Linked DNA regions of Homo sapiens: regions 1, 2, 3, 5 and 6 are each linked to region 4. Evidence: fine-mapped expression QTL. A gene starts in region 4. Each other region holds a variant in brackets. All regions are shown on one strand. Distances are between the middles of the regions.

The links.
Region 1: its variant is fine-mapped to the expression of CAPN8 in whole blood (TOPMed, PIP 0.97).
Region 2: its variant is fine-mapped to the expression of CAPN8 in whole blood (TOPMed, PIP above 0.99).
Region 3: its variant is fine-mapped to the expression of CAPN8 in whole blood (TOPMed, PIP above 0.99).
Region 5: its variant is fine-mapped to the expression of CAPN8 in whole blood (TOPMed, PIP above 0.99).
Region 6: its variant is fine-mapped to the expression of CAPN8 in whole blood (TOPMed, PIP 0.97).

What each region holds. Positions count from the first base shown.
Region 1 is chr1:223,541,055-223,546,128 of GRCh38, reverse strand. It overlaps CAPN8 (calpain 8), which reads left to right. Exons shown (of 21, transcript NM_001143962.2): 17 at 830-898; 18 at 1,279-1,357; 19 at 1,946-2,062; 20 at 2,963-3,021; 21 at 4,270-4,513. The coding sequence ends at 4,293. Among named protein-coding and RNA genes, the nearest start is that of CAPN8, 120 kb to the left of the region's middle. The variant T/C (reference allele first, on the strand shown) is at 3,142.
Region 2 is chr1:223,698,415-223,703,488 of GRCh38, reverse strand. The region is part of intron 1 of LOC105373281 (a long non-coding RNA gene); the gene reads left to right. It also overlaps a transcript of CAPN2 not described here. Among named protein-coding and RNA genes, the nearest start is that of CAPN2, 12 kb to the left of the region's middle. RefSeq lists an enhancer at 1,557-2,403. The variant GC/C (reference allele first, on the strand shown) is at 2,632.
Region 3 is chr1:223,688,340-223,693,413 of GRCh38, reverse strand. It overlaps LOC105373281 (a long non-coding RNA gene), which reads left to right. Exons shown (of 3, transcript XR_949164.2): 2 at 2,586-2,642. It also overlaps the pseudogene RNU6-1248P. Among named protein-coding and RNA genes, the nearest start is that of CAPN2, 22 kb to the left of the region's middle. The variant G/A (reference allele first, on the strand shown) is at 2,675.
Region 4 is chr1:223,663,675-223,668,748 of GRCh38, reverse strand. It overlaps CAPN8 (calpain 8), which reads left to right and starts at 3,048. Exons shown (of 21, transcript NM_001143962.2): 1 at 3,048-3,339. The coding sequence starts at 3,103.
Region 5 is chr1:223,710,129-223,715,202 of GRCh38, reverse strand. It overlaps CAPN2 (calpain 2), which reads right to left and starts at 2,664. Exons shown (of 21, transcript NM_001748.5): 1 at 2,326-2,664. The coding sequence starts at 2,562. RefSeq lists silencers at 2,198-2,317, 2,528-2,917 and enhancers at 2,027-2,978, 3,018-3,067. The variant C/T (reference allele first, on the strand shown) is at 2,293.
Region 6 is chr1:223,551,556-223,556,629 of GRCh38, reverse strand. CAPN8 (calpain 8) reads left to right here. Exons shown (of 21, transcript NM_001143962.2): 14 at 2,730-2,798. Among named protein-coding and RNA genes, the nearest start is that of CAPN8, 110 kb to the left of the region's middle. The variant T/C (reference allele first, on the strand shown) is at 2,962.

The sequences.
Region 1 (5,074 bases), 120 kb after region 4:
CTAGCACAGCGTTAAAAAAAAATAGTCGTGGCACTTTGGGAGGCTGAGGCAGGCAGATCATTTGAGGTCAGGAGTTCAAGACCAGACTGGCCAACATGGTGAAACCATCTCTACTAAAAAAAAAAAAAAAAAAAAAAAATTAGTGGAGTATGGTGGCGGGTGCCTGTAATCCCTGCTACTTGGGAGACTGACATGGAGAATTGCTTGAACCCTGGAGGCAGTGGTTGTAGTGAGCTGAGATCACACCACTGTACTCCAGCCTGGGCGACAGAGAGACTCCGTCTCAAAAAAAAAAAAAAAAAAAAAAGTTGTGGAGTGAATGTAAGTTGGACACAGAAAATCCCTCATAATATCCTCCTGTTTGGTTGTATAGTGGCCTATGAGCAGATTCTGTGGCTTAGACTCCCAGTCCCATGGTTCCTGGCTCCTGATGTCTTTTCCCATAACATTTTGACATTCCAACAAACTCTAATTAGCTGAATGATCAATCACAGAAATGTAAATGTAGAAGCGAATTTACAGATCATACAGCTCCACCCTGTAAATAAACCAGGATGATTAGGGTATTCACGATATTGCAGATTGGCCAGCTCATGACTTGCCCTTTGTTCCTAGCTCTGTGCCTGGCCTCAGAGGAGAGCCTTGGTGCACGTTTGACTTTTTAATCTTTATTTGAACCTGTTACACACCGTCACCCCCACTGCTCTGCTTGCCACAGACATGGAAGGTTCACTAAGGCCTTAAGGCACTCATGCAAGCTCACAAGAGAAAGAAATCTATAAGGCATGTAGAATTTGGACTCAATCATGTTGGTCTTTAATGTGCCTAGAGCAATGGAACGGGCACTTTGGGGGCGGTGGAATTCAAGACGCTCTGGCTGAAGATTCAGAAGTATCTGGTAACTCTCTTTTCCTTCTGGGCATCCTCTCCTCTGTTCTAATCCTCCCTTACACTCATTCCTGGTCCATTGTATTCTGACCACATCCTTAATCATGGTCAAAACTATTGAGTCCTGGGCACATTGGTCATGAAGGAACAAGAAGGCAATGAGAGACTCTCATGCCAACCACTGCCCTGAAAGCCCTGCTGTTCAGACAGCAAAGGGGCCAGCACTGGCCAAGCTCTTATGCTTGCTCTGAAACCTTCTTGGGAGGAGTCAATAGGGTCTCCTTTTGAAAGTGTCCCTGGCCTTTTGAGAAAGCAGTGTGGTGGAGGGAGATGGTTCTGGCAGGGGCCGTGAATGGTTGTTTTCTACTTGGGATTTCTTTCCTGCTTTAGGAGATCTATTGGGAAACTGATTATAACCACTCGGGCACCATCGATGCCCACGAGATGAGGACAGCCCTCAGGAAGGCAGGTGAGGACACATCCTGTAGACAGGGTCTTGGGATCCAGGTGTGCACATTGTAAATATTTATTCTCATGATGATGATTGCTAATGATCATCATTTGTAGCTTTCTTATATGGGATATCAAGGCAACAACAGAGCTTTGTTGAGTACCTTCCCTGTCCAGGAAGGGGAGAATATTGCTCGATTCCATATAGCATAATATTTTAGAATTTTTCCAAGATCTCTGCCTGTTACTGGGAAGGTGACAGCAATTACAGAGGAAGGGGCTATGAAGGAGACAGACAGGAACTGGCCAGACAGGCAGCCCCCTCACCTTCTCTGCTTTTGCTTGCTGATGTGACCCATGGCTGAGTTGGTGCTGGTACTAGCGCTGGACCTGGAATTAGGCTGATCTTGGTGAGGAGTAGCTACAAGGAGAGGGATGGATGGCAGGACACCTTCTGGGATCCCCTGGAGAAGGCAGAGTCAGGCCTGGTTTGCAGATTGATACAGAACCACAGAGGGGCCCCTGGGATGTCAGCTCCTTGAGTGTTTATGGGAGACAGTGCTGAGTCCTCCACTCTACCTGTGACCCAGGCTCCCTCTGCCCTCAGGTTTCACCCTCAACAGCCAGGTGCAGCAGACCATTGCCCTGCGGTATGCGTGCAGCAAGCTTGGCATCAACTTTGACAGCTTCGTGGCTTGTATGATCCGCCTGGAGACCCTCTTCAGTGAGTCACTCTGTCCTCCAGCCCCATCCTATTAATCCCAAGGTGCAAGGTGGGGCAGGGGCAGGGCCAAGGGGCAGAACCAGACATTGCCTTTAGGAGGCCAGGGACCCAGAAAATGATAGACAGGGCTTCTGGAATGCTGGCACCTTGGGGGCGAGGGGCAGCTGGACCTGAAGGGGCTGAGGAAGTCCAGGCTGGCCAGATCCAGGACGGAGGATGCCTTTTTTGGAGACTTAACAAAGCTGCCATCCAGACTATTGCGCATCTACAGTGTGCAGTCACTAGGCCAAGATGAATGAGTCACAGTAACTGTTCTTAGATGGTGTTTAGTGTCTATTTATATTTGTTTTTCAATAGGGATCATATTGAGAACATGTGCCACCTTCCAATGAAGGGATGGGGGGTGCCCTCTGAAGGCAATAGGCGTTTTTCTGCCATCTTGGGCCTTGAGATTAGATATCTTATTAGGAAGGGATTTTTCCTTCCACTGAGGTTTGGTAGGTGTTACGTTCTAGTGGGTCAAGGTCAGTTAGCCAGAGACAAAGCTAAGGGACTGGATTACCCACAAGCAAGACAACCACAATCTGTTTGACCTTGATAAAGTAATTGCACGTTTCTGATATAAAGCTTCTGAGGATGGAGATACCAAAGGGACCATCTCTGCTGGCAACGGGGTTTGTCTGTTTCGGCAGGGGGGCATCTGATCCCCCAAAAGCTCATTGTGTGCCCTGGATCTAGCTTTTTGAGGCCCCTGGGCCTAGGTGGGGGCTGGAGGGGAGGGGGTGGTAGGGGAAAGGAGAGTTCCGCAGGTGGGGATGGGGTAGACAGAGGCAGCTCTCTGATTGTTCCAAAGTCCAGGAACAGCCTTATCTAATTTCATTTCCTTCTCTGGTGTTTTAGAACTATTCAGCCTTCTGGACGAAGACAAGGATGGCATGGTTCAGCTCTCTCTGGCCGAGGTGAATGTCCTGAGGTTTGATGAATTGCTGGCTGATGGTACTCTGAAATTCTTGGACCATGTAGCTGCCAAGTGATGCTTATTCCTGTTGGCTGTCTTAGTTCCATGTGAATACCATGCA[T/C]GTTCTGTGGCAGGCACCCAGCAGGGAGGAAGGCAACTGTTATACAGTTTTCCAAACATTTTTGTTTATTATTATTATGATCGTAAAGATAAAGCTACAGCTACATTTCAGATAATTTCGGAGATGCAAGCCCTTGTTAATTTGGATGGAGTTGTGGGTAGTGGGCACAATATAAAGTGTCTGGCTTCTAGGACCAGCTGTCTTATATGGACCTATGGAAGGATGTAGGAAACAAAAATGAAATTGCAGTGGGTAGAATGAAGATGCAAAATGAACAAGTGTTTTTACTGTGTACAAGTCACATAATGTTTTTGCAGAAAAAATCAGAGTACTTCCCCCGTGGACACTGCACCCCTGTACGACAGAGGCCTTTACTGGCCAGAGGGGACAGCAGGAAGTGTGGAGATGTCTCCAAGGGTCCAGGCAGGGGGAGGCATTGGCCTTTGACTTGATTCTGAGGCGGTGGAACTAGAGGGCCAGGTTATTACTGGCTGTGCCCCATTGTCTGTGCTTACCCACTTTCTTTTCTTCTCTAAAGTGGGAATGCTATTGACCTCTTTCCTGTAGCCCAGGAAAGGCCTTCCTAGAAATAGACCTGTGGATTCCCACAGATACCTGGACAATAGTGTGGAACCTAAAATGGAGTGTGGTTGTGTGGGTGCATAAAATATACATATATACACACACAAATATGCACATATAGGAATATATATATATACACATATAGAAACAAATACATATATAGGAAAAGATATGTACACATATATAGGAATCTATAGGGATATATATATACACACACATATATAGTGTATATATATGTGTGTATATAATAGTATACACTATTGTGTATATATGTATGTGTGTGTGTGTGTATGAATATACATGCACATACCTATTTTTGGAGCTCCCTTTGGGTCTAGAGCTTTTTCTGAGTCACATTTCTGTAGTACCCTGGTTCAGGAGTTAGTGATATAGTGAAAGCCTTCCTTGCTTCCCATGTTTGAGCAAGGCACTTACTGGAGAATGGAGATAAAAAGATCGCACCCATGTGAGGCAGGAGAGCATCAATGGTGAAAGCACACCAGCCCCTGAGAAGCCAAGACTCAATCTTGTCCCTTTCCTTTGCAGTGGCTGTGCTGCGTGTTGGTCTGACCCGGGGTTTCGGACATCAGTGACACTCCCTGCCCCACTGCTTGCTTCTTGTCACCCCTTCTCTACAATTTTGTGAACATTTATGCTCCAGTGGCATTCACTGGTTGTTCATACCTTTCTTGCCCTGGGTCTATTTCAGCAGCACTGAGCTATGAGCTATGTAAGCCGACCCGGTGGGCCCAGTGGAGGGAAAGCAATCAATTAAAGTTGTGAGCCAGAATGGTTTCCACCTTTCTCTCGTGATATGCTATCTGGGCTGTATCCTGGGCTTTTTATGCTTTGGGAAAGAAGATGTTCTCGGGAAATGGCACAACTCAAAACTGCTGAAAGATACAAAGTGTAGGTTAATTTCTCAGAGGAGAAGTCTTCTGTGGACCGAGATGCATCCGGAGGCCACCTTCAGGAAAGGAGCCCAGGAAGGGGGCAGGGATGGGATGCTGGGAGAACAGGGCTTTCTTCCTTATTTGCAGACATGGGAGACTGCTGGACTGTACTGAGGAGAATTCTTACCTGGCAAATAGCTAGAGGGGAAAGGCAGTTCAGGTTAGTTTTGCTCACAGCTGAATGCTGGCATCTCTGTTGTTAGTAAGAAAATAGATGGCACAGCCATGGTGTCCCTAAGGGAGGAATGGGGACAGGGCTGGTTGTTCAAAGCAAACTCTATGTCTGCATAGCTGGTTGTTCTATGCAGACATGAAATATCAAGGAGAACACACACACACACACACACACACACACATGCTTTGGCCCTGGATCAGTCTGATTGATTATGGATTAATTT
Region 2 (5,074 bases), 35 kb before region 4:
CTACTGTGTTGTCATTGGCTGGAGCAGCCTGGAGAGAACACATCCTCATCTCAGGTGCTTTGCAAATGGCCAGGCACGGCACAATGGGAGGCAGAGGTGAGAGGACTACTTGAGCCCAGGGGTTTGAGACCAGCCTGCACAACATAGAGAGACCCCCATCTAAAAAAAAAAAAAATCAAATGCTTTGCACATATTTACTCATTTAATCCTCAGAATAGCCCTATAAGATAGGTCTTGTCATTGTTTCCATGTTTACAGATGAGAAAACTGAGACACCAAGATACTCAATGAGTCACCCAGGGTTATACAGTCAGTGGGTAGTGGAGTTGGCATTTGAATGCAAAACTGCTTTTGGGAACCTCTGTCCTAGACAGGGGCAATGTGGTTTGCAGAGCAAATGGGGGAGAAAATGAACATTCTAAGCCTTACTTGTCAGCACCCTGCGAAGTGCAGTGGTCACAGTCCCCAATGACTTCCTTGATTCGAAATCCAGGGAAACCTTCTCAGTTCTTACTCTCTGTGTCCAGCAGCTGCCACTGCCACTGTTGCCATTCCCTTACTTTCTTCCCTCTGCTTCCATGGACCCCTCCTTCTCCTGGTTTTTCTTCCACCTTCCTGGCTGTTCTTTCTCAATCTCCTTCACCAGCTCCTTCCTCTCCTTCCTCTTCTTGTACCTTTGTGGATTTTTTTGCCTCAAAATCTACCTAGGTCAATAACTCCTATGCTTCTAATTTCCAGTCACAGGGGCCACTTGGAAATGTAGCAGTGCTTGGGGGAATATCACCAGGACACTTCCACTGGCCGGGCTGCTTCTCTCTCTGGGAGGTGGGTTATGTCCTATCCTCCCCGTTTTGCTCTCTTCTTGATGTATATACAGAGGAGACTTTTCTATGGACTTAGAGATAGTAATTTTTTAGCATATTAATTTCGGTTTTCAGGGACAGCTAGTGGAAGTTTGATGGTGTCCAAATAATTCTCCATATAATGTAGTTTATTTTCCTTCCTTTGTTTCTTCCCATCTTTTTCTTTCTTTTCCTTTCCTTTTCTTTTTTTTTGTTTTTTTAGACAGGGTCTCACTCTGTCAACCAGGCTGGAGTGCAGTGGTGCGATCTCAGCTTACCGCAACCTCTACCTTCCAGGCTCAAGCAATTCTCCTGCCTTAGCCTCCCTAGTAGCTGGGATTACAGGTGTGCACCATTACGGCCCAGCTAATTTTTGTATTTTTAGTAGAGACAGGGTTTTACCATGTTAGCCAGGCTGGTCTTGAACTCCTGACCTCAAATCATCCACCCACCTCGGCCTCCCAAAGTGCTGGGATTACAGGCGTGAGCCACGGCGCCCAGCCTCCTTCTTTCCTTCCTTCCTTCCTTCCTTCCTTCCTTCTTTCCTTCTTTCCTCCCTCCCTCCCTCCCTCCCTCCCTCCCTTCCTTCCTTCCTTCTTCCCTCCCTCCCTCCCTTCCTTCCCTCTCTTTTTTTTTTTTTTTTTTTGAGACGGAGTCTGTTGCCCAGAATGGAGTGCAGTGACACGATCTCAGCTCACTGCAACCTCCACCTCCTGGGTTCAAGTGATTCTCCTGTCTCTACCTCCTGAGTAGCTGGGATTACAGGTGTGCACCACCACACCTGGCTAATTTTTGTATTTTTAGTATTGACTCACCATGTTGGCCAGGCTGGTCTTGAACTCCTGACCTCAGGTGATCTGTCTGCCTCGGCCTCCCAAAGTGTTGGGATTACAGGCGTGAACCACTGCACCTGGCCTTCTTTCTTTCTTTAAAAATATTTTTTTCTTTGCTTTTTTTTTGTTTTCTCCACATAGTCGAACATCCTGGAAATTCGTTCCTTTGCGTTAGTCTCTGAGGATGGGCCAGTTAGCTACAGAGCCATCAGAGTCTGAGTGTCTGGCACCTGAGCTCCTCCTTGGCCCACAGAAAGGCTCTGCCCACCAGCTCCCCAGAGAGAATATGGAAATGCTGCCTGGGACCAAATAAGGGAATATAATGAAAGGGGCCTCAGGGCTGAGGCTGTGTTTGAGTCACATTTTAGCAAAGCGGCCACATAGCTTCTGACTCAGAGCACAAAGATTCTTCAATTCTTCATGGCAAGAATGAGACTCACAAGAGCATAAGCTCAGAGGTGGAAAGGAGGGCAGAGCTGTCTCCTCCTGTCCAGTCTAACCAAGGCAGCTAAGAAGCTGAGGCCAGAGAAGGGAGGGTCCCGCAGCCCTAGAGAGGGCCGGAGCCAGCTGGGGCTTCCAGACTCTCGGGAGAGGTCCCATCCTGCTGCCCGCTCTGCAGGCTCTGCTCAGTCTGCTTGGATGCTGCGTGTGTCGGGAGGCCCTGTCACCCTGCCCCTGACCCGGCTATGCTGGGGAGACCTCAGCTTTCTGACTCATACTCAGAAGGGAGTGTCTTAGAGGAATTTCTTTCCACTCAAGCAGTCTATGGACTGATCAAAAGTGCAAGTCATGTCAAGACATAAGTGCTCTCTAACATGTATTCTGCAATGTGGACTTGAATATAAACTGAAAAGCACAATAGTGAATAATTAGAGCTGTCATCTTGGCACGTTTTATGTAACTTCTGTGAGAGCGCGTATCACCTGGTGATACAAATATTTAGTGTCCATTTCCCC[GC/C]TAGCCCATCCATTTCTGAATGAGACACCATGTCTTTCTTGTTCACCTTTGTGATCCTGGCATAGTGCCTGGCACCTGGTGGGTGCTTGGTAAAGGTTTGTTGAACGAAGGGTCATAGGCACAAAGCGTTCCCAGGGAAAACTTGTTGGCATCTTTGATGTCAGAATCATTGATTTAGGGTGAGGGAAATGCTCCCTGGGCCCTGTGTCATGCTAAAGGAGTCCCTGAATTGAGAACTTTGAGGAGCCCAGATTTACTATCCACTAGGATTGCTTCAAATGTCTGAGTTTAGGGTGGGGTGGAGTGTACCCTCCTTTACAAGAGAACCAGAAGATTCCTCCCCCAGGGTTTAATGCTTGAATTCCTCTAGGAGAAAGATAAGAATGTTGCAGAACAGAGCTGTGCAAGCATTTCTTGTTGCTCCCTCCTCCCTCTCTCTCTTTCTCTCTCTCTCTGGGGCTGACTGGTCTGTCCCTAAGTTGTGGGTGCTGGTGCTGGTGTGGAGGGGGGATGAAGGGCCCAGGACATCTCTATGGGGTCTACTTGGGACCAGACTGGCCATCAACACACAGCCCAGCCTCTCCACTTGATTGCCACTCCTGGGGGCATTTCGGTGGACTACAAAGTGCTAGAAACCATGAAGTCCCTGGACGCCCCCTTGGCGCCCTGAGCATTCTATGTAGGGATGGGGGTGGTTGAGTGTGTTCTGGGAGTAGGGTCCTGGGGGAGGGTGGTGGTAGTAATGTGAGATTGGTGTCAAAGAAAAGAAAAAATTATTCGGTGGCACTTGTTGAGGTATGATTAGGAAGGCTTTATTCAGGACTGTTGCAATAGGCATAGGGGCCACTGCAATGGGGTTTTGCGGGGTGGATAGAGATTGGGCTCAACTCGGAATATGGCACGGCCAGGTGGGAATGCATAGCCAAGAAGCAGAGTGGGGGTCAGTGACAGATAATTACTAAGAGTAAACGTAAAGAATAAGGGGGATTCTGGCTAAACCCCCTAACCGAGTCTTGCTGAAGACAGGACAGGGTCATTGGACATCACCTAGATGGTGGAGGATGAGGAGCACAGTTAGATATTGGGGATGATCAGATAGCAAGGTGTTGAGGGGTTCTAGCTAAACTGACTTAGCAGGGTCCTCGTTAAAACTGAATTTTTCAAGGAAGTGCACAGATGGGCCTAGGAAAGGATCAGGAGGCTCACTAAAGTTTGGTCAAGCAAAGAATCTTTGTCAAGGGCCAGAAGAGGCCAGAGGTGAGGCCGAGAGGTGGGGAGGGACTAGCTGCTATAGGACCTTGTAAGGGCAATTGGAGGGGTTGGAAGTGAAGGGTGAAAGAGGTGAGTGTGGTGGTCAGGCTGGTGGGGAAGGAGTAGGGCTCTAGGCAGCTCTGGTGGAGAGGCTCCTGAGCCCCATCACAGGTGTTCCAGGGTCCATGAGAACTTCTTCTGATAGCAGGACTGTAGGCCCATGGTCCTGCTTGCCCACTCTTCAGAAGCAGGCCCTGATGGAGAAGAACTTGGCTTTTTATTTTTTATTTTTAAGAGACAAGACCTTGCTCTGTCACCCAGGCTAGAGTACAGTGGCATGATCATAGCTCACTGCAGCCTCCGTTTCCTGGGCTCAAGTGATCCTCCCACCTCAGCCTCCTCAGTAGTTAGGACTACAGGCATTTACCACCATGCCAAGCTAATTTGTGTGTGTATATGTGTGTGTGTGTGTAGAGATGGGGTCTCGCTATATTGCCCAGGCTAGTCTGGAACTCCTGGCCTCCATAATTATCCTGCCTCAGCCTCCCAAGTGTGAGCTTGGCTTTATGAAGATACAATAATTTGGGGGCTTCTCCTAGTCTATTCCCACTCACGATTTTTATTTTTATTTTCACTTTTTATGTTTTTTGAGAAGGAGTCTCGCTCTGTCACCCAGGCTGGAGTGCAGTGGCATGATCTCAGCTCACTGCAACCTCTGCCTCCTGGATTCAAGCAATTCTCCTGTCTCAGCCTCCCGAGTAGTTGGGACTACAGATGCCTGCCATCACGCCCGGCTAATTTTGTATTTTTAGTAGAGACGGGGTTTCACCATAATGGCGATGCTGGTCTCGAACTCTTGACCTTAGGTGATCCACCCGCCTTGGCTTCCCAAAGTGCTGGGATTACAGGCGTTAGCCACCGCGCCCAACCCCCACTCACAATTAAACACAGCCTGCACATGTATTTCTGCACCAACAGGTTGACAGGCTCTCATTGGAGAGAAAATAACCCGCTCCATCCTTTTGTGCAACTGGAATGATTTGTGTGTCTTGGGAAGTTTTAAAGGTCACCAAGATTTCCTGAACAACAAAAATAAGCCTGTAGTAATAAAGTTATTACACCACAATCATGCTCTTCACTGTGAGCTATAGCGGGTGGTCCTGCCCAGGCAGGTGATGACGGTAAAATGGC
Region 3 (5,074 bases), 25 kb before region 4:
GGGTAATTCTTGTATTTTTAGTAGAGATGGGGTTTCATCATGTTGGCCAGGTCAGGTCTCGAACTCCTGACCTCAGGTGATCTGCTCACCTAGGCCTCCCAAAGTGCTGAGATTACAGGTGTGAGCCACCATGCCAGGATGAATTTTCTTATTCTTTAGGAGAATGTACCTTGATTTGATTTGTTATTCACTATTGAATGGGGCCAAGACCATAACGTTACATACTAGCATGTAGATTTTTGTCTAGTATAGCTACTAATAATTTCATTCAGGGAAAAAAAATAAAACAACAAAAGCTAAAATAAAAAATAAAAACCAAACAAATAAACAAAAACCCTAAATCCCAAAGGTTATAGTCTTCTTGCCCTGTATAACATTAACCAGTTTTGTATACCACCCCAAAATTCTATTTTAACATCTTTTATTCAGTGCCTATAATACTTAATCTCTCAAGTTCTCTTGAAACCAACTTTACCATCCCACTCATTCTCTCATTAATTAGGTAAACGAGTTTTTAAAAAACCAGGTACATAAATCTAAACATAATGCTCTCTTTATAAATGTAAATAAATAAAATACAATTTTAACTCATAAAAAATTATACCCACGCTGGTGCAGAGCCTCTCCTTTAATCCCAGCACTTTGGGAGGCCAAGGTGGGTGGACCACCTGAGGTCAGGAGTTTGAGACCAGCCTGACCAGCATGGTGAAACCTTGTCTCTACTAAAAATACAAAAATTAGCCAGGCGTGGTGGCAGGTGCCTATAATCCCATCTACTTGGGAGGCTGAGGCAGGAGAATTGCTTGAACCCCGGAGGTGGAGGTTGCAGTGAGCCGAGATCGTGCCATTGCACTCTCTAGCCTGGGCAGCAAGAGCGAAACTGTCTCAAAAAAAAAAAAAAAAAAATTATACCCAGCTGGGTGTGGTGGCTCACACTTGTAATCCTAGCACTTTGGGAGGTCCAGGTGGGTGAATCATTTGAGGCCAGGAGTTCGAGACCAGCCTGGCCAACATGGTGAAACCCCATCTCTATTAAAAATACAAAAAATTAGTTGGGCATGGTGGCACATGCCTGTAGTCCCAGCTACTCAGGAGGCTGAGGCAGGAGAATTGCATGAACCCGGGAGGTGGAGGTTGCAGTGACCTGAGGTTGCACCACTGCACTCCAGCCTGGGTGACAGAGACTATCTAAAAAAAAAAAAAAATTATACCCTGCCACTTGAATTTAAATTGGCCTCCAATTCCAAATGACCACAATGTGATTTATTTTAACCTTCCCTCTTTCCATATTTGTAATTCTCTTCTCCAACAGTGAGAGATATTGCTTTCATCCTTCTGAATATATTTATTTATTTATTTAATTCAAGAATACACAGAAAGTAGTTTTAGAATCACAAACCCATACTACCATGAAAATTACAACTACCAACTAGGTTAGGGTTCAATGTTTGTTTATAGTTCGTTTTGTCCTTACTGAGAAGATATAGTCAAAATGCTATAGACAAAGTCTCTTGAATTACTTAGTTTCCCCCCTATTCAATAGATTCTTTTTGAATCTGGCTGGGCACGTGGTGGCTCACGCCTATAATCCTAGTACTTTGGGAGCCAAGGAAGGATTGCCTGAGGCCAGGAGTTTAAGACCAACCTGACCAACATAGCTAGATCCTATCTCTCCAAAAAAAAAAAAAAAAAAAAAAAAAAAAAAAAGAGAGAGCGATTCTTTCTGAATCTAAAATCTGTTTAGAACAGGAGTGGCTTGGTTTACTCCACTACCCTTTGTTAGAGTGTTTCTAACTGTGGCGGTTCCTTTCACATGAAAATAGGGCCCTCACTTTTTGTATAGGTGGCCATAGACATATAATAGAAATAACAAACAGACAAGTAGCAGAATATACAAAACAGTTGCGTTTTGATCACTTCCCAGGAGTTGTGCATTCAATTTACCAGTGACTTCGTGTTTCTACTAGCCTTTTGCTGATATCCTAACTACACATTAGTTCTTTCCACCCCACGTGGAAAATGACAGTATTGGCGTACTTTAATTAACTCCAGATAATTTTCTCTATTTAGAACTCTGAGAAGTTGATCTCTCTCCAGAGGACCCCAGATAATAAAAAGCATTCTAATTCTCTAGAGTTGGGCCATTCAAAGCCAGTTTTAAACAAGAGGTTGAATGATGTCCCCACATGTTCAATTTTATATATGGTGTTAGCATACTTCTGGTGATAAGGGAGTTTTGTTAATGACTCATATAAATGACAGCTTAATTTTTAGTTTTTAATAGTTGTGCTGTGTGCTTTGCTCTCATTTTTAATAGTTCGCTGTGTGATTTGTGTCCTGTTAGGAACAGGATTCTAACAAAGCCTAACTCTTGGTGAAATCTGGAGTTTATCATCAGGTCCCTGGCCCTGTTGTATCACCCTTTCCCACCTTGATGGTAGTCTCCCTGTTTTCCTTGTATGCAGTGCCCTGAGGAGATCTTTTTCACACATTTAAAAGTCTTCTTTCATCAAAGTATCTGAAAGTCAGTCACATGAAGTTGCAAATAACAGATAATAGCTTAAAGTGTCACTCTTCTCTCCTAGACTCCTACAGGACAACCAGGGACAATCATCTTCACAGGAACCTATCCTCCCTGCTGGGTATGTAATTTGCATAATTTATAGCGCTGGGT[G/A]CAAAATGAAAATGTGCTTATCTTGTTAAAAATGCAGGAAAAAAACTGTAATTAAAATACTAAAATATAAAGCCTGTGCGGTGGCTCACGCCTGTAATCCCAGCACTTTGGGAGGCTAAGGTGGGCGGATCACTTGAGGTCAGGAGTTCAAGACCAGCCTGGCCAACATGGTGAAACCCTGTCTCTACTAAAAAGACAAAAATTAGCCGGGCACGGTGGTGGGGCGCCTGTATTCTCAGCTACTTGGGAGGCAAGAATCGCTTGAACCTGGGAGGTGGGGATTGAAGTGAGCCAAGATCGTGCCACTGCACTCCATCCTGGGCAACAGAGTGAGACTCTGTCTCAAAACAAACAAACGAACAAACCCCTAAAATATAAAGCTTTTTTTTAAAAAAACAATTTTTATAAAATGTAATAGGGATAATAGTGATATATGAGTAATGACTAAACCTACAAATTGCAAAAATGTACCATTTTTTGTTTCACCAATTTATATAATACAATGGATAATAATACTTTATTAATGTGAAATCTTGATTGGTCATAAGATTTTTCTGACTCACTTCTCTGCAAATCATTTCTAAAGCCATCAAAATTTATATATATATATATTTTTTTTTTAAAAAGGGGCTATGCTAATCTTCTCTGTATCATTCCAATTTTAGTATATGTGCTGCTGAAGTGAGCACCAAAATTTATATTTTCAAGATGATGACAGCAGAGTAAGAAATAAAAATAAAATCCTAAGCCTCCCAACCGACTGAATGGAGTGCCTCTCAGCCAAGTGGACCCCAGAGGAACCTTAAAAACTGAGTTCCCAGCCATAAGGGGATGGGAGGTCAGATACACCTCAATATGCCCTATCCTTATTCATCTTTAACCAGAAATTTTTCCTAAGGAGTACACGGAAATCAGCCCTGGGGAACAAGATACAGATGACTCTACTTCATTGCCTTTAGCCAGTCATCTGAGGCCATGACTGGACTCCCCCTTCCTTTTTGTGGTTTTTTTTTTTTTTTTTTTTTTTTTGAGACGGAGTCTCGCTCTGTTGTCCAGGCTGGAGTGCAGTGGCGTGATCTTGGCTCACTGCAAGCTCCATCTCCTGGGTTCACGCCATTCTCCTACCTCAGCCTCCTGAGTAGCTGGGACTACAGGCGCCCGCCACCAAGCCCGGCTAATTTTTTTTGTATTTTTAGTAGAGACGGGGTTTCACCGTGTTAGCCAGGATGGTTTTGAAGATCTCCTGACCTCGTGATTCACCTGCCTCAGCCTCCCAAAGTGCTGGGATTACAGGTGTGAGCCACCGTGCCTGGCCTTTTTGTGGTTTTAACACAGCAACTAACCAGCATTCCTTCCTGGTAAGAGATCACTGACCACAGAGTGGTTCTCAGCAGTTTGCAGAAGATGCACGTTGATGGTTTTTGTGTTCTCTGTTTCACCTTTTGATGTCAGAGGGCCAAAAACTCCACCCTTGGATCATGCAAGCATCATCATTTTTTGAACATGTGACGCATAAAGAGGCATGAAGCCCAATTGCACATGCACATGTTTCTCTTTTCATAAATATTCATGACTCCTCCTATTGTGTACTAAATATGTATACTTAGCCAAGCCATTCATTATACATTCCTGTTTTATCCATCCCTGCCTCGAAGTACCTGCTTCTGACTTCTGTCACAGGCTACACTTCCCAGCCTGTAGGAATGGCCACCTTGCAGATTGCAACACTTCATGAGAAATAAACCTCTTATTTCAAAATTTATGAACCTCACCACTCGTTAGTTGACAAGAGTATTAACCTAAGCATGGGGCCCCTCTTGGAGCAGGGCCCTTATGACTGCATAGGTTGCTGCCCATGAAGCTAGCTAGCCCTGCTGACCTTGTTGCTGGTTTTCCAGGAGTAGATGCCGAGACTGTGCTTGGTGTACAGAGTATTTATTAGGAATCAACATCCGTGGATGAGAGGAGGAGGAAGCAGTCTTGGGCAGAGGGAAAAGTCAAAATGTGATGCAATTGTGACAAAGCTTTGGCCATTCCTATGGGATGTTCTGGACCATACACGGCCCATCAGAGATGCTAGATTAAGCCAAAATGTCTGTGTCTTTATACCTTACTTCTATCAGTCATTGGATGTGAACTGCCCCAACTTTGGGAGGTGGGATTAGCAGAAAGTTTCCAGGTCTCAAATCCTTTAGAGTTTGTTTCAGTTGCAGAGAGCTAACTCAACCAAGGGCATGACCCTCCCAGGCTGAGCAACATCCTGCTTTCTCTTCTGAAGAAAACAGTAGCAAACCAAATCCAGCTCTCTATATATGATAATATATCACAGCCAATAGCTGAGGTCAAGAATAGTAGATTGACCTCGTGTGGTGACTCACGCCTGTAATTCCAGCACTTTGA
Region 4 (5,074 bases):
GTGATTGGATGGAGGAAGGGCTTGTTCATTTTAGTCAGTCTAAGGGGAATGTTTCTGGGAGGTGTAGGGGAGAAAGAGGCAAGAAAAACAATCCCATAGGATCCTTGCTAATGAACTAATGACCCTGCCGGAAGGTGTCAGGTCCATTATACCTGGTGCACGTTTATCCACAGCACATCTCATACCTGTAGGTGTATATTCATGCAACAAATATTTATTGAGTCCCTACTATGTTCCAGGAGCTTTCTAGGGTTCAGGAATACAACAATGAGTAAAACAAACAGGGGTAATTGTCCTCGTGGAGATCAGAGCCTTATGGGGTGGAGAGGCATTAATTAAATGATTACAGGAATCGGTGCGGGACAGGGTCTTGCAGGTTGCTATGAGAGCGTATAAGAGGGGAAAATGGCTTAGTATGAGGTGTGGAGTTGTCCAGAAAACCTTTTCTGGGGCACCCAGGTCTACTGGATGAACAGGGCTGGGGTGGGGAGAAGAACATTTCAGGTGGAGGGCACAGAAGGTGTCAAGCCCTGAAGCAGGACAGAACACAACATTCCAGGAATGGAAAGAAAGCCAGGAGGGGAGAATGGAGCAGGAGGAAAGGTAGGCAGGGCCAGCTGCTCAAGGTCTAATGGGCTGTGCAAAATCCCCCTTACTCTTCTCCCAGGAACAGTGGGCAGCCATTGGAGGTTTTAAGCTTGGCAGTGACACAGCCAAGATTTGCAATGACCATTCTGTTTTGACTGAATGGAGTTGTGGTTCTGGTTTTAGGGGTGGTTGGGGCCACCCAAGTGAGACCGTGTCAACTGTGTGGGCCGGTGAAAATGTAACTGTGAACACTAGATGAGCTTAATAGTGGGCAGATGTGGAATCAAAGGGAAAGTGATGTTGAGGGAAGGAAGACGGGGTCCCCAAGGGGGCATGGACCATAGTCTTTCTGAGGCTAGCTTTAGCCTCTGAAGGCCATTTTGGCCTTGAATTTCTTTTTCTTTCTTTCTTTCTTTTTTTTTTTTTCAGGCAGGGTTTCATCACTCTGTCACCCAGGCTGGAGTGGGTGACTCACTGCAGCCTTGACCTGACCTCCTGGGCTCAAGTGATCCTCCTACCTCAGCCTCTTGAGTAGCTGGGACTACAGGCATGCACCACCATGCCCAGCTAATTTTTCTTTTTTTTTTTTTAGAGACTGGGTCTTGTTATGTTGCCCAGGCTGGTCTTGAACTCCTGGGCTCATGCAATCCTCCTGCCTCAGCCTCCCAAAGTGCTGAGATTACAGATCTGAGCCACCATGCCTGGCCTGGCCTTGAGTTTCTGATGAAACCTGGGAAACCACATGTTTTTCTGAACACCTGGGAGCAACCCTTCTTTCTACTTGCTCAGACCTACCCACCTAGCTAAGTGCTTAACACGTGGACTGTCATTGGCTTAGAAGGTCAGAGTTGGAGGCCTCAGAGGTCGGCTGGTCCAGAGCTTCTCAGAGGGCATCCCTGGATCCTTGTATTAGCATCATCTCTGTGGTACTGGTTTAAAAACTGCAGATTCCTGGGTCTTACTTCAGACCTCCTGAATTAGAACTCTTTTTTGGGAGGGATGGGGGTGGAGGATTTGTGGTAGCACCTATTAGGGAATCAGCATTTTGAGCGAGTGCTCCAGGGGATTCTTCTGCACACTATATTTGTTTCCTGCGTCTTCTGTAACAAATGACCACAAATATGGTGGCTTAGAACAACATACATGTATTCTGTCACCGTTCTGGAGGCCAGAAGTCCCAAGGCTGTGAAATCGAGGTGTTGGAAGGCCCACATCCCTCCAGCGGCTCTAGGGGAGAATCCATTCTTGCCCCTTCCAGCTCCTGTGGCTGCTGGTGTTCCCTGGAGTGGGGCAGGATCTCGCTAACCTCTGCCTGCCTCATTTCATCACCTCTCCTTTTTGTCTATTGTCAAATCTTCTTCTGCCTTCCTCTTAGGACACTTGTGTATTTAGGGTCAGGATAATCTTCCCATCTCGAGATCCTTAACTTAGTCATAGCAGCAAAAACCCTTTTCCCAGATAAGGGACTATTTACAGGTTCTCAAGATGAGGACCTGGTATCCTTGGGGGACCATTTTCTAGTGTGCCACAAACACTGAAGTTCAAAAAGCATTGGTGTGGTTGACATCCTTCGGGTAGACCAGATGTAGGAAACTGGAGCCCAGAGAGAAGTGACTAATCCAAGGTCATACAGCTTGTAACTCACTTCTGAGATTGGAATCAAGGCTCCTGATTCCAAGGCCTTTCTGGGAATCCTGGCTTCAAGGAATAGTGATACCTGACATTCACTGAATGTTACTTCATACTGTTCTAAGCAGATGACATGTACTATCTCATCACTCTTCCGAACAACCCTTTGTGGTAGGCTCTCCTATGCTCTTCCAGTTTATAGATAAAAAAACTTAGGAGAAAAGAGGTTAAACAACTTGCCCAACATGACAGAGCAAATTACCGGGGGAGCTGGGATAGAAACCGAGGCAGTCAGAGGCCAAAGCGTTCACTCACAGGTGGAACCTCCTCCAGTCAGGCTTATTCCAAATCTGGCCTGTGAATCACTACTCTCTGGTATTTTTTGCCTTCCTAGGAAATATGCACCAAAACATTTCTGGCAGGAAAGGAGGCCCCTGTAACTACTTGCCTTCTTCCTGCTCAGAGCCATGCCTCCAATTCCTTGATGAATATTTGCTTCAAGCTGCTCAATAAGCCTTCTCATCTCAGTCAATGGGCTTGAAGCAAGGTAAGCAGGTCTTGCAAAGAGGTGTGTGGAGGGAATGCCGGGGTGGGGTCAAGATCCTAATGGATTTCTTAGGCTAATGGCCTGGGATGGGCCCTGGAAAGTTCCCAGACCCCAAATTATTTGCAAAAGGCAGAAGAAGAAGGTGGGGCAGATTGGCCTGGACCTTGGGTACATATTTGTCCCTGGCCATGACTCACTTCCTTCTGGAACAGGGCCTCAGGTGAAATGTTTGTCTGCTCCACCTCCTTTAGTGCCTTATAGCTCCCCTCCCAGTGGAGCAGGTGTCTGAGAGTACAGTGCAGCCCTGCCCTTCTGTCCACCCTACAGAGCCCACGGCCATGGCAGCCCAGGCAGCTGGTGTATCTAGGCAGCGGGCAGCCACTCAAGGTCTTGGCTCCAACCAAAACGCTTTGAAGTACTTGGGCCAGGATTTCAAGACCCTGAGGCAACAGTGCTTGGACTCAGGGGTCCTATTTAAGGACCCTGAGTTCCCAGCATGTCCATCAGCTTTGGGCTACAAGGATCTTGGACCAGGCTCTCCGCAAACTCAAGGCATCATCTGGAAGCGGCCCACGGTAAGGAAGCGGGCTTGCTGTTGAGTGACATACAAGGTGGAGGGGCCTTACATCTGATCAGGAGGAACTGAGGGAGAAGTTGAGGCTGTGGACCCTAAGTGTCTGGATCTCATATTTCAGATCCCTCCACCACCACCTTTTTTAATTTTATTTTTTTGAGATGGAGTCTTGCTCTGTCACCCAGGCTGGAGTGCAATGGCATGATCTCAGCTCACTGCAACCTCTACCTCCTGGGTTTGAGTGATTCTCCTGCCTCAGCCTCCCGAGTAGCTGGGATTACAGGCATGTGCCACCATGTCTGGCTAATTTTGTATTTTTAGTAGAGATGGGGTTTCTCCATGTTGGTCAGGCTGGTCTCAAACTCCCAACCTCAGGTGATCCATCTGCCTCAGCCTTCCAAAGTGCTGGGATAGCAGGCATGAGCCACTGCATCTGGCCCCCCCATCACCTTTTGAACTCTTATTTTTTTTGAGGCAGAGTCTCACTCTGTCACCCAGACTGGAGTGCAGTGGTGCGATCACAGTGCACTGCAACCTCAACCTTCCTGGGCTCAGGTGATTTTCCTACCTTAACCTCCCAAGTAGCTGGGATTATAGGCACGTGCCACCACACCCAGCTAATGTTTACATATTTTTGTAGAGACAGGGTTGTGCTGTGTTGCCCAGGGTGGTCTTGGACTCCTGGGCTTAAGCCATCTGCCCACCTCAGCCTCCCAAAGTGTTAGGATTACAGATGTGAGCCACTACACCCAGCCTGAACTCTTGTTCAGAGATGGTGAGGTATAGAGAGAAGAGCATGGATGAGCTTTGGAACTAGGTAAGATAGATTTGAATCCTAGCTCTGCCTGTGTTGTTTTGGGCCGGTAAACTCTGTGAACCTTAGTTTTCTCATCTGTAAAATGGCATTTACTGGCACCTTATTTTTCAGGGTTGGTATGAGAATTAGAGATAAATCTCAGAGCATAGTGCCCAGAACATAATAGATGCAGAATACGTAGTTGTTATTACTGCATATGGTCCCTGGGCCAGTGCACAATGGAACAACTCAGTGCTGGATGCAATCAGCTGGCAGGTAAATTGTGACAACATCATTGCTGAAAGGTGCACGGTTGCGCAAGGTCATGAATTGACATTATTCCATCAGGGCTGGTGAGTGGAGAGGTGGGAGCTGGGGCTCTGTGGATGCAGACGGAAGGCAGAGGCTCCTGGATGCGGTTACTGATACTACCCAAAGCTCAAGGGCAAGGGATGGAGAACAGTCCTCCCAAAACCTAGACCCATGACCTATCACTATGTGACCCTTGTCAAGTGATTCCTCAGGGATGAGAACCTCTCCCATACAGAGTGGTTGTGAGAATTGAGCTCATCCATACAAAGTGCTCTGTTCAACAGAGCTCATAACAACGTCTCAGGAGAGGGGCTATGAAATGACCTGGGCACCTTTTGTCTTCTAAACCATGATAGGGAAATTAAGTCAGGGTTCCTATTTTCTTGGCAGTGGTTGAAACAGGAAGACAAAGGGAGAGTACTTCTTCTAAAATGGTCAAAATCACTATTTAACTCCAGCTAGCTACCTCTACCCTTTTTACTTTGATCCTGCTGATTTTGCCTAACAGTTTTCATCTCTGAGAATAACTCCTTGGCCATGCTGCCCTCCCGCCCACCGTGGTTCATCTTCCCATTCCCCTCTGAAACCTATAGGGTTACCCTGGTATGTTGATAAAATCCAGATTGGG
Region 5 (5,074 bases), 46 kb before region 4:
CTCACCAATGACTTGCTAGTGTTCAAATCCAGCGGAAACAACTGTGCTCCCCTTGCCTGACCTCAGCAGCATTTGAGAAGGTAGGAAGGAGGCAGAGAGCGCAGCCATAAGGGGTAGGCTCAACATGCACAGACTACACACAGTCCTGGATCTATGCCCTATATCCACTTGACTCTGAGCAAGTATTTAACCTTCCCAAGCCTCAATTTCTTCAACTGGCAAATGGGGATCGTAAAAGTCACACTCTTCCTTAGTTGTGCAGTGCACAGCCCGCCTGCCCTAAGCAGTGGCGCTAGATCATCTCTAGACCTCTACATCCTCATCTGGAAGTCCCACAGGCATTTCCAACTGTTGGGGGACCTGTCTCTGTCCCCTCACTAGCCTCAGAAGTAAGTCTTCAGAAGCAGAAACCATATGCATTGTGCCCAGCATATAGTAGGTATTCGAGAAATGCTTACTGAATGAATGAAAGAATAAGTGAATGAGTATGTGAACTCACTATGTAAACTGTAAAGTGCCATGCAAATGTAAAGTGAACACATTCTCTTGGTTTGTGTTTCACTTTTTTTTTTTTTTTTTTTACTTTTTTATAGAGACAAGTCTTACTGTGTTGCCCAGGCTGGTCTTGAACTCCTGGCTCAAGCGATCCTCCCACCTTGGCCTCCCATAGTGCTGGGATTACAGGTGTGAGGCACTGAGTCAGGTCAGCGTATCACTTTCACAACCATAATTTCATTTGAGGCACATTACAATCCTGCATCCATATTCTACAAACAGTCACTTCTTTTGTGTTCACTGGTGTATCTCCTGAGCTCTCAGGACAGTGCCTGGCATGTAACAGGTGCTCAATCAGTGTTGTCAAATGAGTGAGTAAATGAATGAATGAATGAATGAATGAATACTGTGAAAGGCATGGTTATGTGTCAGGCACTGGGGATATACTGGTAAATAATATACACATGATTCCTGCAGTTCAGTAGGAAGAACAAATACATGTGATTATATTCTAAACTGTGACAATGCTATGAAGGAAATGAGTGGGGTGACAGAGAAAAACAAGGTGGGGAGGTGGCTGCTAAGAAGGGTCAGAAAAGACCTCTTTAGGAAGGGAACATGTGACTAAGTTGGGAAGAATGAGAGTGAGCCACACTCCAGGTAACAGCGTGCCTTGCTGGTGAGAAGGCCTCATGCAGGAAAGAACCGGCTCTTTGAGAGACTGAAAGGAGGCCATGACGGCAGGGCCTAGTGGGCCACAAAAGAGAGAAAATATTTAGGCAGCATGTTTTCTTTTAGATGAAGACATGGAGGCACAGAGAGGTTAAATGGCTCGTTCAAGGTCACCAGCAGGTTAGCAAGAAGAAGAACCCAAGTGCTCTGAGTCTGGGCTAGGGCGCTTCCTGCAGCCCTTGCTACCTATGGGCTGGATTTAGGGTAACAGAAGGTGACCTGGGAGGCTGCTGGGTGTGGAAGCAGAGCTGGAAGCCTTGTTCTCACAACAGGAATCTAGAAGTTGGACTTCAGGGCAGGCTTTCCTAGGCGTGGTAGGGGAAGCCTGGGGAAGTGTCCCAAAGGAGGAGGAGCCTCAGGGGTTCCCCAAGAAACAGAATGGACAAGTAGATTGGGGAGCACAAGTTGTCCCAGGGCCGGGAGGTCAGAGACCCTGGGGGACGGGATAAGGGGGTCTGGAGGGCTCCCGGAGGTTTCCCGGGTGATTCCCGCCAGGGAAACCATGAGACACCTCCGTGTCCTGGGTTAATTACCAGTGTCAATGTTATGAGGAGGTATCGCTGGCTCCCCTTTGGAAAAATAAATCTAACCCCAGGGCTGCAGGAGACTATCCTTAGTCACAAAATGACCAGGCTATGGCCTGTCCCCCTCCATGAACAGACAGAACCCCAGTTGGAGACGGACTTTGTCTGGTAGATGCTGCCTCTCACCGTCCCTTCCCTGCAGACCCGATTCCCCTTCCCTTCCAGCTCCCCGCTAGAGTCCAATCAAAGTTTCACCCCGGCCTCCTGCATCACCCTGAGTTTTTGTGAAGTCCTAAAGTGGCCTGCTAGTGGGATCTGAGGGCAGTGATTCGCCTCGACCCGCCCAGGAAAGCGTGGTGGGTGGAAGAGAGGGAAGGCCCCGGGAGTCCCCCCACGCTCGAACAGAGTCCCGGGCTCTGGCGGCGCGGAGGTGTCGCAGGACTGCGAGGTCCTGGCTTGCGGCTTCCCCACTGCAGCACCCGGGCTGCCCCCCGCCCCAGCGCGCCGCGGGCCGGCCTGCACCCCGCCCTGCCCGGCACCC[C/T]GCCCTGCCCGCGTCCTGCCGCGCGCTTCCTACCGTGGGGCGCTTCCACTCGATGCCCCGGGTTTTGCTGGAGTAGGGCCCCAACTCCTTGAAGCCCAGGGCCGAGGGGATGGCCGGGAAGGACGGGTCCTGGAAGAGCGTCCCGGCCTCCAGGCACTCGTTCCGCAGCGCCTCGTAGTCCTGGTTGAGGTACTTGATGGCCCTGTCGTGGGAGCCCAGCCCCTCGGCCGCCTCCCGGTCCTTCGCCAGCTTGGCCGCGATGCCCGCCATGCTGCGGTCCCGGCGGCCGTACTGCGCAGAGAAAGGTCGGGGCGACTCCGCGCTGCGCTCGGCTGGGGCGCGGCCAGGGCCCGGCGCGCTGCTGCGGCCACTGCGGGCGCCGCCGCTGCGAGCGATGATTCACCGGAGGGAAGCGGCCCGGCCCGCGGGGTGTGGCCTCAGCCGCTCCCGGCCTGCTGGGCTCCCGGCCCGGGACCAGGCCATCCTGCGGCCTGCCGAGCGCCGGGAACGCCGCGACCCGGGGCCGGTGCTGCCATCTGCGGACAGCTCCCGGGATGGCGCGGCCCGGCGCCGGGGAGGCTCGCGAATCGCGGTCCAGAGTTGGGGCTCCCACCGGAACCCGAGGCCACCTTTGCAGCCCATAGGGAAGAAGGCTAGGATAGTTGTGGCCGTCCGGAAAACACCCGGGGAGTTAGCAGAGGGTCAGGTAGTGAAGTCGAGGAAACTAAACCAGCTGCCCTGAACTTTGTGCCAAACAGCGTCTTAACGGCTCTGCATACATCATCTCATTTAATCCTCCCAGCGACTCTGAAGAAGGCGCTGATATTGTCCCCATTTTACAGATGAGAAAACTGAGCCTCGGAGACGCTAAATGACGTCCCCAATGTGGCACAACAGTCACAGGCAGAACAGGGACTCTAAGCCACCGGAGGCCTATTGCAATCACAATGCTGCAATTACTACTGCTCAGCTGTTTATTTGATTATAGATAGGGTTGTCAGATTTGGCCAATAAGGCTGGGTGCGGTAGTTCACACCTGTAATCCCAACACTTTGGGAGGCCGGAGGCAGGCGGATCACCTGGGGTCAGGAGTTCGAGACCAGCCTGGTCAACATGGTGAAATTCCGTCTCTACTAAAAATACGTCGTGGCAGGCACCTGTGATCTCAGTTACTCGGGAGGCTGAGACAGGAGAAACGCTTGAACCCAGGAGGGAGAAGTTGCAGTGAGACGAGATCGCGCCACTGCGCTCCAGCCTGGGTGACAAAGCGAAACTCCATATCAAAAATAAAATAAAATAAAATGATTTGGCCAATAAAACAACAACCCTCCCAAATGTTTAATTTGAATTTCAGATAAACAACAGATACTTTTAAAGTATATGTAGGGCCCAAATATTGCATGGGCATACATACTTATTCTAAAAGAAAATATGATTCATTGTTTACCTGAAACTCATATTTAACTGGCAGGATTAGTTGGGTTACTATAGGGAGAGAGCATTTAGAATACTGCCTGTGTTGGCTACTGTGACCACTCTGTTGTGGAGCTAGGGTGTGATTCTCATCTCACACACAGAGACATGGGTGCGTGCCAAGAAATGCAGATGGGCAGAAATTACCTCCTCTTCTTCTCTACAGTAGTAGGGAAGAATTTGGGTTTCACTGGAAAACTGTGCATGGTCTACAGCAGTGGTTCTCAACTGGGGGCAGTTTTGTCCCCTACCCACCCCAGGAGACATTTGGGAATGTCTGGAGATAGTTTTTATGGTCACAGCTAGGAGATGAGGTGCTACTGGCCTTTACTAAGTAGAAGCCAGGGATGCCGCTGAACATCTTCCAATGTCCAAGATAGCTCTTGTGAACCCAGAAAATCTGAAACAGGTCTCATTTAATTTAGAAAGTTTCTTTTGCCATGGTTGAAGATGCACACCTGTGACACAGGAAGTCCTGAGGACATGTGCCCGAGGTGGTTGGGGTGCAGCTTGGTTTTATACATGTTAGGGAGGCAAGAGCCATCAGTCAAGTACATTTAAGAAATACATTGGTTTGGTTCAGAAAGGCGGGACAACTCAAAGTGGCGGGGGGTGGTGGGTGGGTAGTGGGGGTGGCTTCCAGGATATAGGTAAATATTTAAACATTTTCTGGTTGACAATTGGTTGAGTTTGTCTAAAGGCCCAGGATCAATAGAAAGGAATGTTTGGGTTGCGATAAGAGGTTGTGGAGACAAAAGTTTTATCACATAGATGAAGCTTTTAGCTAGCAGGCTTCAGAGTGAACAGGCAGTAAAATGTTTCTTATCAGACCTAAACTCTGGTTGATGTTCACGCTGGAGAGGTATAATGAAGCATGTCCGACCTTGCCTTTCCTTCATGGCCTGAAAATTTCAGGTTAAAATTTTAAGAGCCTCGGCTAAGGAGGAACCATCCATTTAGATGGTTGGCGGGGGTAGGGGAGGGGGAGGCTTAGAATTTTATTTTTGGTTTACATTCTCCACCCAAAACATGATCTAGTCCAAGACATCAGTCATGTAGAGGCTGAGAAACCCTGGTTTAGAGCATCTCCTTCCAGAAGATCTGGGTCTAGCCTTTCATTGTTTTTGTTGTTGTTGTTGTTGTTTTTGTTTTTCTTGAGATGTAGCACCCTGTCACCCAGGCTGGAGTGCAGTGACAGGATCTTGACGATCTCAGCTAACTGCATCTTCTGCCTCCCGGGTTCCAGCGATTCTCCTGCCTCAGCCTCCAACGTAGCTGGGATTACAGGTGCACACCACCACATCTGGCT
Region 6 (5,074 bases), 110 kb after region 4:
TAAAGCTCCCAAGCAACAGGAAGTCTCTTCTGGTCATGGGTCCACATTGGTTACCCCTGTGGTCAGCTCACAGGTTTCTTTATGACTGACAGCTCTTGGGCTTCTGTGCTCAGCATGGGGCCTAGAATCTTTGATGAACTGGGAGTCCTCAGGCCAATGGTCCAGCCTCCCCTTCTGAGGTACTAGGACATGGCTATGGAGCCATTCAAGGGTTCCCATATCCCCAAGATCCTGTAAACTTTCAACATCTTCTTGGTCTCAGGGAGACCCTGCTTTTTCTCTTTAGGGCACCACTGTGCTGTGACTGACACACACACACACACACACCCCAGAATACACAGATAATGTCCTCAGGGGACTCAGTACTTTACAGAAGACAGGAAGGACTATTGCCTTTAGGAACTTCTGTTTTATTCCCTGCAGAAATCTCCAAGTCACGGACAGTTGGACATTCAAAGAGCATAATCACCTGCTCTGAATGAGGGAAGGAAAAATTACAGGGTGAACAAACACACTCTTGGAATTTAGCCGTGTTCACTTTGAGCAGGGTTGTAAAGACATTCCCAACATGTGATATAATGAATAACAAGAAAATAATTCCTTGCGTTTGCCATGCTGCCATACCATTTGCAAAGCATTTTCATATAGATTGTATCAGGGAAATAGAAAATTCCACTATAGTACGTTCCTTGAGAACAAAAACTACGCCTTGTTCACCATTGCATTCACACGCAGGTTCTGAACAGTTCCCAACATGGGCCAGGTGTTCAGTAAATCTTTTTTTGAATGGACAAATTGTGAAGTACCACAGTTGCAACCACGTACACGTTTTCCTCATTCCCAATGTCCAAAAATTCCCTTGTGTCCAATGATAACTCCCAGTGACGGGATGCCTGCTATGTGCCTGTGTGTGTCCATATCCATATACTGTTTTGTTGTTAGTTTTTATATGCAATTTTATGTTTTTCCCCTATGCAATTTTATGTTTTTCCAGACATGGAGAATATTACTCCATGTCTGGAATTTATGGACATCCAAGATTTTGGCATACTGTATTACATGAATGATATAATGTTGTTTTCCCTATAAAACCACTTTAAAATCATATATGTGTGATGAGATATGATGTGTTTATCATTTTTTCTTCTAAAAATCTAGATGTATTTTTAGATTAGCATATCTTCTATGTAAACAGCATGGTAGGCGTTAATATCCTCATTCTGCAGGTGAGGAAACAGCCCCAGAGAGGCTGAGAGTAGTCGGATGCAGGGAGCATCTTCTCTGACGATCATTCCAGAGGGTGGTGGAGAAGTGCATGGGCTGGAGTTTAATCCTGGCTTCACTGTTTACTAGCTGTGTGATCTTGGCCTGTTACATAACATTTAAAATGAAGTAACATTTAAAATTCCAGTTTGTCCATTGGTGAAGTGAGGACAGTAATGAGAGGAACCTCACAGGACAGTGGTGAATATTAAATGAAATAATCCACGCAAAGTACCTGACAGGTAGTAAGTACTCAACAAAGACAAGTATTATTACTACAGTGGTTATCTTTATGAGTACAGCATCATCAAGCTATATTGGGCCTTTTGTACTCATCTTAGTGATAGTTTTGAAAGAAATTAACCCGGCTTTCTAGAAATTTCGTGTCATCTGGGAAGCTGTCACTTTTCCATTCTGTCTTGTGGTGACAACTGGGCATTGTCCTATTTTGGGCAGAGCCCATTGTCACATCAGAAAGTCTCTGGACAGAAGCATTCATATAATGGTTTGTAATTTCCAAAGGACTTTGACCCACATTAGCTCTCATTTGATTCCTAAAATGGCCCCATGAAAATGGTCTGGTTAAATCAATAACAGAGTGGAGGCCATGGATGTTCAGAGCCCTGAGATAGTGTCCAGTAAGGGTACAATCTGCTATTTGAACTCCAGTCTCCTGGCTTCTAGTTCTACTCTTTCTACTAGGCCATGTTCTCAACACTTTTGAAATCATGTTGCTCTTCGTGAATCTGATGAAAGCTAAGAAAATGTTTTTTTTTTCTGATATAAGGTCTCGCTTTATCACCCAGGCTGGAATACAGTGGCACAGTCTTGGCTCACTGTGGCCTCAGCCTCTGAAGTAGATGGGACTACAGGCGTGCACCACTACACCCAGCTAATTTTTGTATTTTTTGTAGAAATGGGGTTTCACCGTGTTGCCCAGGCTACTATCGAACTCCTGGGCTTACGTGACCTGCCCGCCTCAGCCTCCCAGAGTATTAGGATTTCAGGTGTGAGCCACTGCACCCAGCCAAAAATGCATTTAGATATGACCCCATGTTTTCACGCAATTTCTGGAGTTCAGACTCCCTGGAAAATTATCAGTGATTCCCTTAGGAGTCCACAGATTCACACCAAGATTTTCTGGTGTCAGTGTCATTTTCTGAAAGTTGTTCAGGTTGTAATCAGAAATTCAGGGTTGGTGGGGCTCACTTCCCCAAATCACTTAGAGAGAAAACTGCTAGGCCCCAGCGCTGCCTCTCTGCTCATCCCTGCTGGACTGTAAGCTCCCTGGGGCCAGGACCTTTGCTGTCTCTTGGTTTGCCACCATGTGCCCCCACTTAGCCCAAAGCCTGGCACATAGTAGGTGCATCATAGATACTAATGGATGAAGGAATGAATTTTAAATCTTCGTCTTTCATTCTCCTTGACGATTCCCATTTTAACTTTGCAAATGTCCTTCTTTTTAGCCACATCCCAGTGAGGTGGATCAGGAAGATGACCAGTTCAGGAGGCTGTTTGAGAAGTTGGCAGGGAAGGTGAGTGGAGGGCGAACATGGCTTCCCAGGTGGGCAGGAGAATATTCAGGAATGCTCAGGTCACTTCATTCTTTACTCCCTGAGGTCTCTAGGCATAAAAAGGGTGAGACTCAGGTCTCAGGGGCCCCCAGCTTCTGTGCCCATCACCATCCTGTCTTAAGAT[T/C]GAGTACCTTTCCTTCATCACTTGGGAATTGGTCCTGAGGCTACTTATCTTGCTGCGTTGACTGACTCTTGAGAAAATAGAAAAGCCAGATCTCCAGGTCCTGCCAAAAGCCTTTCTGTTTGCAGATTGGCCCTGTCAGATTGGGGTCTCTGAATAAAAAGCTGGGATGGCAAAACCTCTCCAAATAGATATCCTTCAGAGTGAGGATTGCCCAGCCGCAGTGGAAGGCAGCTCAGCTAACCTGGCTTGGGATTAGTGTGCAGGACTAGCCCTGTTCCCTGTCACCGTCCTGCAGCCCTGCCCGCCCTCTGGGAGACCAGCAGCCTGAGGAATCCAAGCTTTGCCCGACATGAATGCAACTTGGGCACTTGGAGCAGAGAAAGAAGCGACCCCTGATCCTTCTCCCCTGCCCTGGCTTCCGTTCACTTTGGTAGCAGCCCGGTGGGGGCCACAAGTCAAAGCATAACCAGGACTTGAAATGTCAAAACCGGCCCCATAAATACAGCGAATGTGTTACTCTTTGGAGGATAATAAAGTGTGTGAAAAGGGCCCGGAAGAGGAAAAAACAATGGTCTCCCCCCACCACCCCGGGAAACTCAGGGTGACTTTCTAGACTTAAGGATAAAATAGAAGAAAAGATATCAGAATCCCTTGCAGGAAATAAAACCTGGGAACAGTTCCTTTGCATAGCCATTGAATAAAACCCTTGCAAAGATGAGCCAATTTATGTTTTAGATGGATTTACAGGCCAGTATTTTTGCTAACAAAACCTGTTTCCTTAGCTGCCAAGGGCCATATTTTATTAAGAACACCAAGAATGATGAAAGGAAAAGCTCATATTTGCATAGTTCTTCATGCACTTTATCTTACCTTTCTCTCTGGCTGCATGGGGCAGTATTGGTCACTCTCCTTGCTCGGCTTGTAAAGTGGCCTGCACAGAGAGGTTAAGGAGCTGGCTGAGGGTACAAGGCCTCATGAACGACGGGGTCAAGGTCCAAATGTAGACTCTTGACATCCCATTTCTTTCCTGGCAGGCTAATGGGGGTAGTCTTCTAGCCCCAGAGGCTTTTTAAAGGGGCCTCAAGTCTTTTTTTTTTTTTTTTTTTTTTGAGATGGACTGTTGCTCTGTGACCCAGGCTGGAGTGCAGTGGTGCACGGCTCACTGCAACCTCTGCTTCCCGGGTTCAAGCGATTCTCGTGCCTCAGCCTCCCGAGTAGCTGGGACTGCAGATGCCAGCCACAACGCCTGGATAATTTTTGCATTTTTAGTAGAGACAGGGTTTCGCCATATTGGCCAGGCTGGTCTCGAACTCCTGACCTTAGGTGATCCACCCACCTCGGCCTCCCAAAGTGCTGGGATTACAGGTGTGAGCCACCGTGCCTGGCCCAGGTCCTCAGGTCTTATTATTGGGACTGACCACTCTGTGCTGGGGTGAGGCCAGTTGTCCTCAGAGGAGACACTGCTTTGTGCAGCTCTTGCCTCTCTCATTTCCAGTAGAATTGCCAGGGCCTGGCTAGCGGAGGATGGGAAGATGGAAAGTGACTCGGCTAAAGTCACATGATGAATAAGGGGCTGAGTTGAGACTGGGACCCAGACATCAGCCCAGCACGCCTTCTCTGCATTTCCTTGGTCATCCTGCCTGAGATCTGCTCTCCATCTGAGAGTTAAGGGATGACTCTTCCCTCTGGCTCAGTGTTTATCCCAGATGCACACAGAATATGCTATTCTCTCAATCTCTGCCCCCAGTTTGAGATGGGCTCCTATGTGAAATACCAACTCCTGTAGGTGTGGTGGGGAAAGCCGGCACTTTGGGGTGAACCAACCTTAGGTTTCCAAGTCTAGCTCTGCCTCTTGGTAGCTACAAACCACAAGCAATTACGTCACATGAAAATGACAAATGATGTTGCATGTATACAGTGTTCAGCAGTTTACAAAATCACGACTTCCTTAACTTGAAAATGGCTGTGGAATTGTGCTGAGGATTTAAGGATCTTCCACACTGGCTCTGGCACATCTGGTTCAATCCTATCACTGCTGTTCCTGTTACTTTATCCCTGTTCAAGCGAGCCCTGTGAAAGGCAGCAGGACCCTGGCATGGCAGCCTTCTGCCAC